Linked DNA regions of Homo sapiens. The protein of the gene in region 2 purifies or fractionates together with the protein of the main gene of each other region. This does not show direct contact. Each region holds a gene or a part of one and is shown on either strand. Other genes may lie near its edges. The genes, in order: RBFOX3 and SPDYC.

Region 1 (3,801 bases), on a different chromosome or scaffold from region 2:
AACAATAGAGTAACACCCTTGCTGATCAGCAACTTTCTCCCACAAACCCCGGGGCCCATAGCCCACCCGACCCCAGGCAGCTGTGCCCCCCACCCCTTTAGTGATGGAGGGCACCAGACCCCAGGGAATGGGAGCAGAGAGGGCTCAGAGAAGCCCCTCGCTGACCTCAAGAGTGGACAACGGCCCCATTAAAGCATCCAGACAAGGTTCTGGGGCTCTGAATGTCCCCCTAAATGCCAGTGACCTCCGCGATGCCCGCCGTGGTGGGGATAGGGGTGAAGATAATGGAGGCAGCTGCAGGGCTGAGTTCTGGGGCTCCCACGATCCTCCCCCCCCCCAGGTCTGGAAAGGCTGCCTAGCCCCTCGCACTGCGCAGGGCCTCCCCATTTCCCTCCTCCCCGCCGTCCTACCCCCTCCTCCACGCCTCCCCCGGCCCAGGTACTCACGCTCCGTAAGTCGGGATGGGGGGTGGGGGTGGCGCAGCCCGAAATGTATTATACACGGCCCGGCCCCGGCCCCGAAGATGTGCGCCCCGGTAGGCAACGGCTGTGCCGGTGGTGGGGTAGGGGAACCCCGTCACTGCAGGAAACGGGGCCCGAGACACGTGTGAGAGGCACAAGGGGACCCACCTGGCACCCCCTCCCCGTACACCTAGCCCCCCCGCGCACCTAGCCCCCAACCCCTCCCCAAGCCCCGCCCCCGGAGCGCTACTCAGTCAACACGGCGACGGGAGGGCGGGGACGGCCCACCTGGCCCCGCCCCTCATGCCCCGCCCCCAGAGCCCCCGGAGCCCCACGGGGCCAAGTAGCTGGTCTCATCCCATCCCCGCCCCGCCCCAGCTTTTACCTGCATAGAATTCAGGCCCGTAGACTGCGCCGACCACTGGATTTAGCTTCCAGCCTAAAACAAAGGCACAGAGACCTAGTCACTGCCTTCCCCGACCCTTTTCCCACCAAAACGTATGCCTGGGAACCCCAGCGACACCGGTGGAGCCCTTGGGAACATTCCCAGGGCGCCTCCCCGCGCCGGGCCCCCCTTTCCCACACTGCCCGGACAAGTGCTGAGTTCAAAACACCAGGGTCTACTCCTTCCTGACTCTTCTGCCTGGGGGTCTGCTAGGATTCTTTCCCAATTGTGATCCTCCTCAGCCTGCCCCTGAGCAACCCTCACCCCTGGGCGTCATCCCCCGAAGCCTGGGGTACCCACCTCCCAGAAGAGAACTGGAGAGGGAAAGTGGAACTTGTTATCTACCCCCCTGAGCACAGCTGGGATGAGGGTTTCTGGAGTCAGACTCAGCACAGCCCCACCATCCGAGCTCCAGGTGGCCAGAGGCTGCAGGAAAGGCGCTTGGACTCTGCCCATAAGCTCTCCCCACTGCCTGCCAAAGTCCCCGTCCTGCTCCCTCTTCCCCGTGCTGAGTCCTGCTCTCACTTTCCTCCCGTCCTCATCTTCCCCCAGAGCGGCTGTCCGGGAGGGTGGCCTGGGAGCAGGTCGAGGAGGAAAGGGCATTTGGACTGGGAATGATAATAAGGATGGGCTGGTTTTCCTCAACACTGTGTGTGAGCCACACAGACTGTTCGAAACTCACGGGGTCCTCCCTGCCCAGTGAGCCACCACACCCTCCCCATTTTGCAGATGAAGAAACAGCCCTGGAGAGGCACAGCAACCTCCCGTCAGCAGCTGGGGAGTGGCAGAGCCAGGGATCCCAGCCTGTAATCGGCATCCCAGCCTCTCCCTTCCTGCAGGTGGGCCAGTCTTCCTCTCCCCGGGGGAACCCAGGAGCAGAGCAAAGACCTGCTCCACCTGGAGGCCTCTGCGGGGGACACCAGCTGCCTTGCAGTGGGCTCCGGCTCCAGGCATTCCGACAGGTTGGGCAGGAGGGCTTCTTGACGAGGCCCAGCCCCTTACCCCTCCTCAGTGTACCCAGGTCTTATCTCTACAGCATGCCCCGTGGGCCCGGCTCCTTGTCCCTTTGCACTGGGTGGGGAGGAACAGCAGGGACGAGAGCCCACTGGCCAGCTGGGGAGATACATCTGGAGAGGGTGGCAGTGGGCCCAGGCCATGTGTGAACCCCTGACCCAGATTCTAACAACCCCACTGCAGGGCAGGCAGACTGGAGGCAGTGAGGACGGAGGGTCGGGGTATGTTCCTCCCTCTGGCCAAGTCTTCACCCCACCCCGCATCCCCGGCCCACCATCACACAACCTTGTGTCTGGACGCCATTGCTGGGACTTTGGAATCTTCCAAAAAGATAAATCCCAGGTTAGGAAGGAAGAAACTTTTTTTGGGGGTAGGGGGGCACAGTTTCTTGCTCTGTTGCCCAGGCTGGAGTGCAGTGGACGATCACGGCTCACTGCAGCCTCGACCTCCTGGGCTCAAGCGATCCTCCTACTTCAGCCTCCCGAGTAGCTTGGGCCACAGGTGCCTGCCACTACACCCACAGCTAATTTTAAAAACTATCTGTAGAGACAGGGTCTCCCTGTGTTGCTCAGGCTGGTCTTGAAGTCCTGGGCTCAAGGGATCCTGCCACCTTAGCCTCCCAAAGTGCTGGGATTACAGGCATGAGCCACTGCATCAGGCTGAAAGAAATGTTTTGTTTTCTGGGAAGACCTCCAGTCCGAAGAACTGACTCTTCTTACTAGAAGGCCCATGATGGAGCAGAGTCCTGGAGACCCTGACCCCAAGCCCAGACTCCCCGGGGCTCCATCCAGTGACTCTTCTGGGTCCACTCTGGGCGAGTGAGACTTGGAGGCTGCATGTGTGCTTCAGATGGCCCTGGGCACCTTCACCTGTCAATTCTGGCTTCCTGGATGCCTCCACCGGTGATTCTGGCTTCCTGGGTGCCCTCCCCTGTCAATTCTGCCTCTCTGGGAGCCTCCACCTGTCTCTGCTGCCTCCATTTCACTGTCTGGAACCCCAGATGGCAGAGACAGCCTGAGACTGCCTGGCTGGCCTGTTTCTACCGTAAATAGTTAACACCTGGGCAAACCTGGTGGGTTTGTTTTCTACAATGGAAACCTCCACCCCCAACTGATGAATTCCAGAGTGTTGGGTAGTGTTGAAGCCAAGTCACGCAGCACTCGCCACCAGAGCCCATGGGTTGGCTTCGGTGCCAACCTGCAGAGAACCCAGGGCCGTCCCACTGCAGCCCTCTGTGCCCAGGCTGATGAAGAGATTGAGATGAAACGGCTCTTGCTGCAAAGGTGGGCAAAGGTTCCCACCTCCCTCCATTCCCTGATGTTTCACTGGTGTAGGTTCCGTGCCCCTCATGAGCCGCATAGCCCGAGGCCATTCAGAGATGGGTCTGTTCTGATTTCCATGCTCCCCTGAATTCTCACTTCTGCCCAGACAGCGGTGGGTGTGGCCCTTGGGTGCAGAGTGGGCAGCTGGTTCCAGAGATTTTGCAGCCCCGCTGGTTGATCACCTGTACCCTATAAAAATGTCTACCGCTTTTACTTCCTGTGCCAAGTGCCAGATCACAGAAGAGTCACACCCAGGACGCACTCGGGATGCTTGCAAAGTGGGAACACTCCCAAATTTTTAAAAAGAATTTGAGATGTGTAAGTCCTCAGAAAAGCAGGATATGAGGCCATGAGAATCAAGTCTAACTTGGGCCAGGCCAGAGGCCCGGCCCCACCCCAGCATCGGACACCAGGAGAAGAGCTCGGGGGAGAGGTGGCGGATCGGGCGGTCCTGTCCAGGCTTCCATGCTGGTTGTCACCTGACTCCACGTATGGCCGATCACATGGGGGGCCATGAGAGGCTGGGGGTGACACCGTCTGAAAGTCCACGGCAACAGGG
Region 2 (4,310 bases):
GGAAAGAGTGAGGCTCAGAGAAGAAACCTGCCAAGCTCACACGGGAGGGGCAGCACGTCGACCCCAGGCCCATGGCCCTCTCTCTCATATTGTTGGTCCTCACTCCTGCCTCCCAAGCTCCCACACCAGCCCCCAGCTCCTGTCCCATCCTGCACTCACTGCGGAGGGAGTAGGTGCCTGGTTCCAGTTGCATCTGGGGAGGCAAGACGATGAGAAAGTCCCCACCCCAGGCGTTTTTGACCCTTGAGAGATAATTTTGGGAGGGAGGGCGATGACATTCAGAGGTCAGAGAAGGGCACTTGGATGACACAGGCTTAAGCAAGTGGCTGCTGCAGTGCTGGGGCAAACCACAGGGGGAACAGTGGGGCGGCGAGAGGCCAGGGCCCCGGGGAAGGCGAACAGGGACCTGTGGACAGACCCTCTGAACCCCACCATGGTGGGGGCGCCGGTCCCGAGTCCAAGCCCAGTGGAATGGCTCCTTTGCCATGACCTGGGAGGAGCAGAGTGGACAGTAAATGGGGTGGGAACCCCAGCCTTCCCCACACCCCAGGTTGCCTCCCAGCCTCACCTCCTCACAGCACTGGCGGCTCACAACAGCCCGGAAACCCATCCGTGCCCAAAGCTTATCCCTCTGGTGCAGGAATTTCCCCACTCGTAAACACCAATCTTTTCCCAGGGCCCATGGAAAAATCTCACATTTGGGGCCCTCCAGGTCCTCCTCCATGTCGTTTGCAAGGTACCTAGCCACAGAGGCACAAGGTCAGGGAGCAGAGGCCACACATCTGCCCTGTCCCATCTGACACCTCCAGCAAATGCCTCCACTGCCTGCCCCCACCACTCACAGGGCCAAGAACAGGCTGCTGTGGGTATACTCGCTGAGCTTCAGGTGGGCGCGCTGGAAGTAGACCAGCACCATGGCCAGGAGATACTGCAGAGACAGATCGGGGTGGGGGGTTAGTTATTCTCTGAGGAGGAGGGGCTTGCACCCAGGTTCATTTGCACCCAGGGAGGTTTTGCTGCAGGGAAAGAAAGTCAGTAAAATGGTGGGAAGTGGTGTGCAAAGATGAGGGGGTAAGGATGGAAGGTGAGTGGCTCTCCCTACCAGACCAGGGCACTCAATTCCCACCAACTCAACCTGACCCTCAAGAGACCCCCAGCCTGTACTCCCTCACCTTATCTGAAATCTGGAAGCAGGGGTCTTTGGAGAGGAATTCCTGGACAAAACTGTCCTCTGAGGGTAGAGAAGACATGACAGGACGCAGGTTACCACCACCTCCATGGAGAAGAGTGGCATCAGAAGCTCCAAAGCCCAAGCCACCACTGAACCCTCTCTCTCTTTCTCTTTTTCTCCCTTTTTCTCTTTCTCTCTCTCTTTCTTAATATAAATAGAAATGGAGTCTCACTATGTTGACCAGGCTGGTCTTGAACTCCTGGCCTGAAGTGATACTCCCATTTCAGCCTCCCAAAATGTTGGGATTATAGGTATGACTCACGGTGCCTGGCCCTGAATCCAGTTTCTGAGAGGACACCCCTCCCACCTGCCTAAGCTGGGATACCTGAGAGGGAGAGGGTCAGAGGTCTCAGATGTCTGTACAGGCAGGTGAGACCCCACACTTCACATCTGCTTTCACACTTGACCTCACGGCCCCTCCCGTGCCAGCCCTCCAAACTCACCCAGAAGGCTGAGGAAGGCCTGGACCTCCTGGTGCTGGCGAAAACGGAGGAACCCATTGCCCCCACCTTGCCGGCTGCAGCCCCCCAGCTCTACCTGGGTGGTAACTACAGGGGAAGTGGTGGGGTCTTGGGAGTCACTCATCTCATAGGAGATGGAGATGGGGCAGGGTGACCTGTAGAGAAAGGAGGCTCAGGACTTAGCATGTACCCCCGTGATGCTCACAAATCAAGAGGGTGGTGACAGGGGCCAGGACGGTGGAGGGGTGGGTGCAGAGACTTGGGGGCTCAGAACAGAAGGCAGCCGGGATGCAACAAGAGTGGGGAGGCCAGAAAAGAAGCAAAGAGTTGCTATAGGTGAGGGTGTGGCACCCTCACCCTCCTCCTGGCACCCCAGGACAGGCCAGAGTAACAGCAGCAACAAGCACCGCTGAGGGCTTCCTAAGTGCCTGGGGCTGTGCTTAAGGGCCTTATCTTATTCCATCCTGGTAAGGAGGTAAGTTTAACTCAGACCGGTCGTCAAACGAGGAAACTGAAGCTGAGGCCTAACAGCCGGTTAAAAGTGAAGCCCTTGGTCTCCAAAACCCCAAGAGGTTTTTTGGTTTTTGTTTGTTTGTTTTGAGACACAGTCTCTCTCTGTCGCCCAGACTGGAGTGCAGTGGCGCGATCTCGGCTCACTGCAACCTCCGCCTCCCGGGTTCAACTGATTCTCCAGCCTGAGCCTCCCGAGTAGCTGGGATTACAGGCATGCGCCATGCCACCACGCCCGGCTAATTTTTTTTGTATTTTTTTGGTAGAGACAGGGTTTCACCGTGTTGGCCAGGCTGGTCTCACACTCCTGACCTCCCAAAGTGCTGGGATTGCAGGCGTGAGCCACTGCGCCTGGCCAAAAAAAAAGAAAAAAAAAACCCAAGAGTTTAACTGCTCCTCTAGGCCCCAACTCACAACCACCCCCGACCCCTCACCAAAGCAGAGTTGAAAGGGCCACTGATCCCTTACACCGAGGGGAAACTGAGGCCCTCAGGGAGGAATGAAATTAGAAAAATACCTGGATTTAGAGCAAGTTGATGGGGCCACTTCAAACATTTCAAGCTCCCGTCCTAAACCCACCCTCATCCCTGAGAGAGAGAAGCCAACCACGGGGCCGAGGAGAACGTGCGGTCGACCACCCCAGGGCCAATCTGGGCCCCTCCATCTAGGCGCCCGCAAGCAACCCAGCCTCCTCCTGCAGCGAGCCTTACCCGAGCTCAGGAATGGCCCAGAGCATAACACCAACGCCGCCGCGAGTGCGCTTATATAGCCTGAGGGCGGCCCTGCCCAAAGCAGCCCGTCCACCAATCAGGGCCTTCCTGGGGGGCGAGGCTTGGCCTTCACCGCCTGCCTCTCTGCCAGTGAGTCCAGTCGGCACCCAGCTGTGGCTCCCCAGGGTTTGAAAGCCTCTCCAAAGCTTCATCAACTACAAGAGGGGTGAAGGCAGGCCAGCTGGACCCCAGGGCCTAAGGCCCCATAGGACAGGCAGGGAGCTAGGATCCCTGTTCCCCTCTTGACAAATGCAGCGCCAAGGTGCTGAGCCGGGATATGAGACCCGGACTGCGAGGGCCTGGTGGGCGAGTTTTTTTTCATTGATTGTGCCTTGCTAGGGCAGGGTCTCTGGCTCTCTATGGGTGTCTCTGAATCTCCTGGCCTCCTTGAGTCTCTAGGTTTCACTGAGGCCCCCCGAGTCTCTCTTTTGTTTCTTATTTTATTTTTCCCCTCGTAACACAGAACAAGCTGCCTGGGTCTCAGTGGGCCTCTGAGTCTCTCAGTTTCTTGTTGCCTCTGGTGTCTGGATGTCTGTGGATCTCTGGGTCCTTTGTTTTCTCTCTGATCTCTGGTCTCTGGTGTATCTGCTGTTTCATGGTCTCCCCCAGGCCGCCTCCCAGGCTCCCTGAGGCCGTGAAGGCCTTTCTAGACCAGCTGGTCTGCATCAGGCCATCCTGTTTGTGTGTGTGCACGCATTTGAAGTCGGCCTCCCCTAGAAAGGAAGTAGTGAGTGGGGCAGCATCCATAGCCCGTTCACTAAACACCTACTGCTGCCTACTGAGGAGTCTGTGATGGAATCAGCTCACGTGTTCCTCACAGCAAGCCCGTGAAGTTGATGAGAATGATGAGAAGCCTCATTTTGTCAGCGAACAAACAACTAACACACAGAGTTTGGGTTGCTGACCGACAGGCTGAGTAACTTCCTGCCAGCCACTCAGCTGGTAAGTAGAGATAGAGTTCCAGCCTGGCTGCTGGGCCCACACGCTGGGTAGCCTGGCTGTGTGGTCTACAGCTGTTCCTGGACGCTGCCTGCACAGAGAAGGTGTTCCATGAAACCGAATGAATCTCCTAGACCAGCTGTGTTTTCAACTGTTCTCCTCCTCCCCCAGTAATTAAGGTTAGAGATCAGGAAGGTGTACCAAAAAGAAGCCTGGGAGTGGGCTAGTCACTTTAACTTTGGGAGGGCCTTCAGGCTGATTTCCTTCAGTGCCACCCCTGGAGATCTGACACCGATCTCCCACACTGGGGAGAATATTTGTTTTTACTTTTTTTTTTTTTTTTTTTGAGACGGAGTCTCGCTGTGTTGCCCAGGCCGGAGTGCAGTGGCCCAATCCCGG

Evidence for each region.
Region 1: the proteins of SPDYC (region 2) and RBFOX3 purify together in Homo sapiens (affinity purification with mass spectrometry; one large-scale study listed by BioGRID and IntAct). This does not show direct contact.

Annotation. Positions count from the first base shown.
Region 1 is NC_000017.11:79,096,846-79,100,646, forward strand, and holds part of RBFOX3 (RNA binding protein fox-1 homolog 3), read right to left. Parts: intron 922-3,801; coding exon of another isoform or gene 901-921; coding exon 847-900; intron 580-846; coding exon 447-579; intron 1-446. UniProt on the Homo sapiens protein: Pre-mRNA alternative splicing regulator. Regulates alternative splicing of RBFOX2 to enhance the production of mRNA species that are targeted for nonsense-mediated decay (NMD).
Region 2 is NC_000011.10:65,168,864-65,173,173, reverse strand, and holds the start of SPDYC (speedy protein C), read right to left. Parts: upstream 2,942-4,310; 5' UTR 2,913-2,941; intron 1,848-2,912; 5' UTR 1,817-1,847; coding exon 1,675-1,816; intron 1,232-1,674; coding exon 1,173-1,231; intron 929-1,172; coding exon 843-928; intron 741-842; coding exon 569-740; intron 491-568; coding exon 160-490; intron 1-159. UniProt on the Homo sapiens protein: Promotes progression through the cell cycle via binding and activation of CDK1 and CDK2. Involved in the spindle-assembly checkpoint. Required for recruitment of MAD2L1, BUBR1 and BUB1 to kinetochores.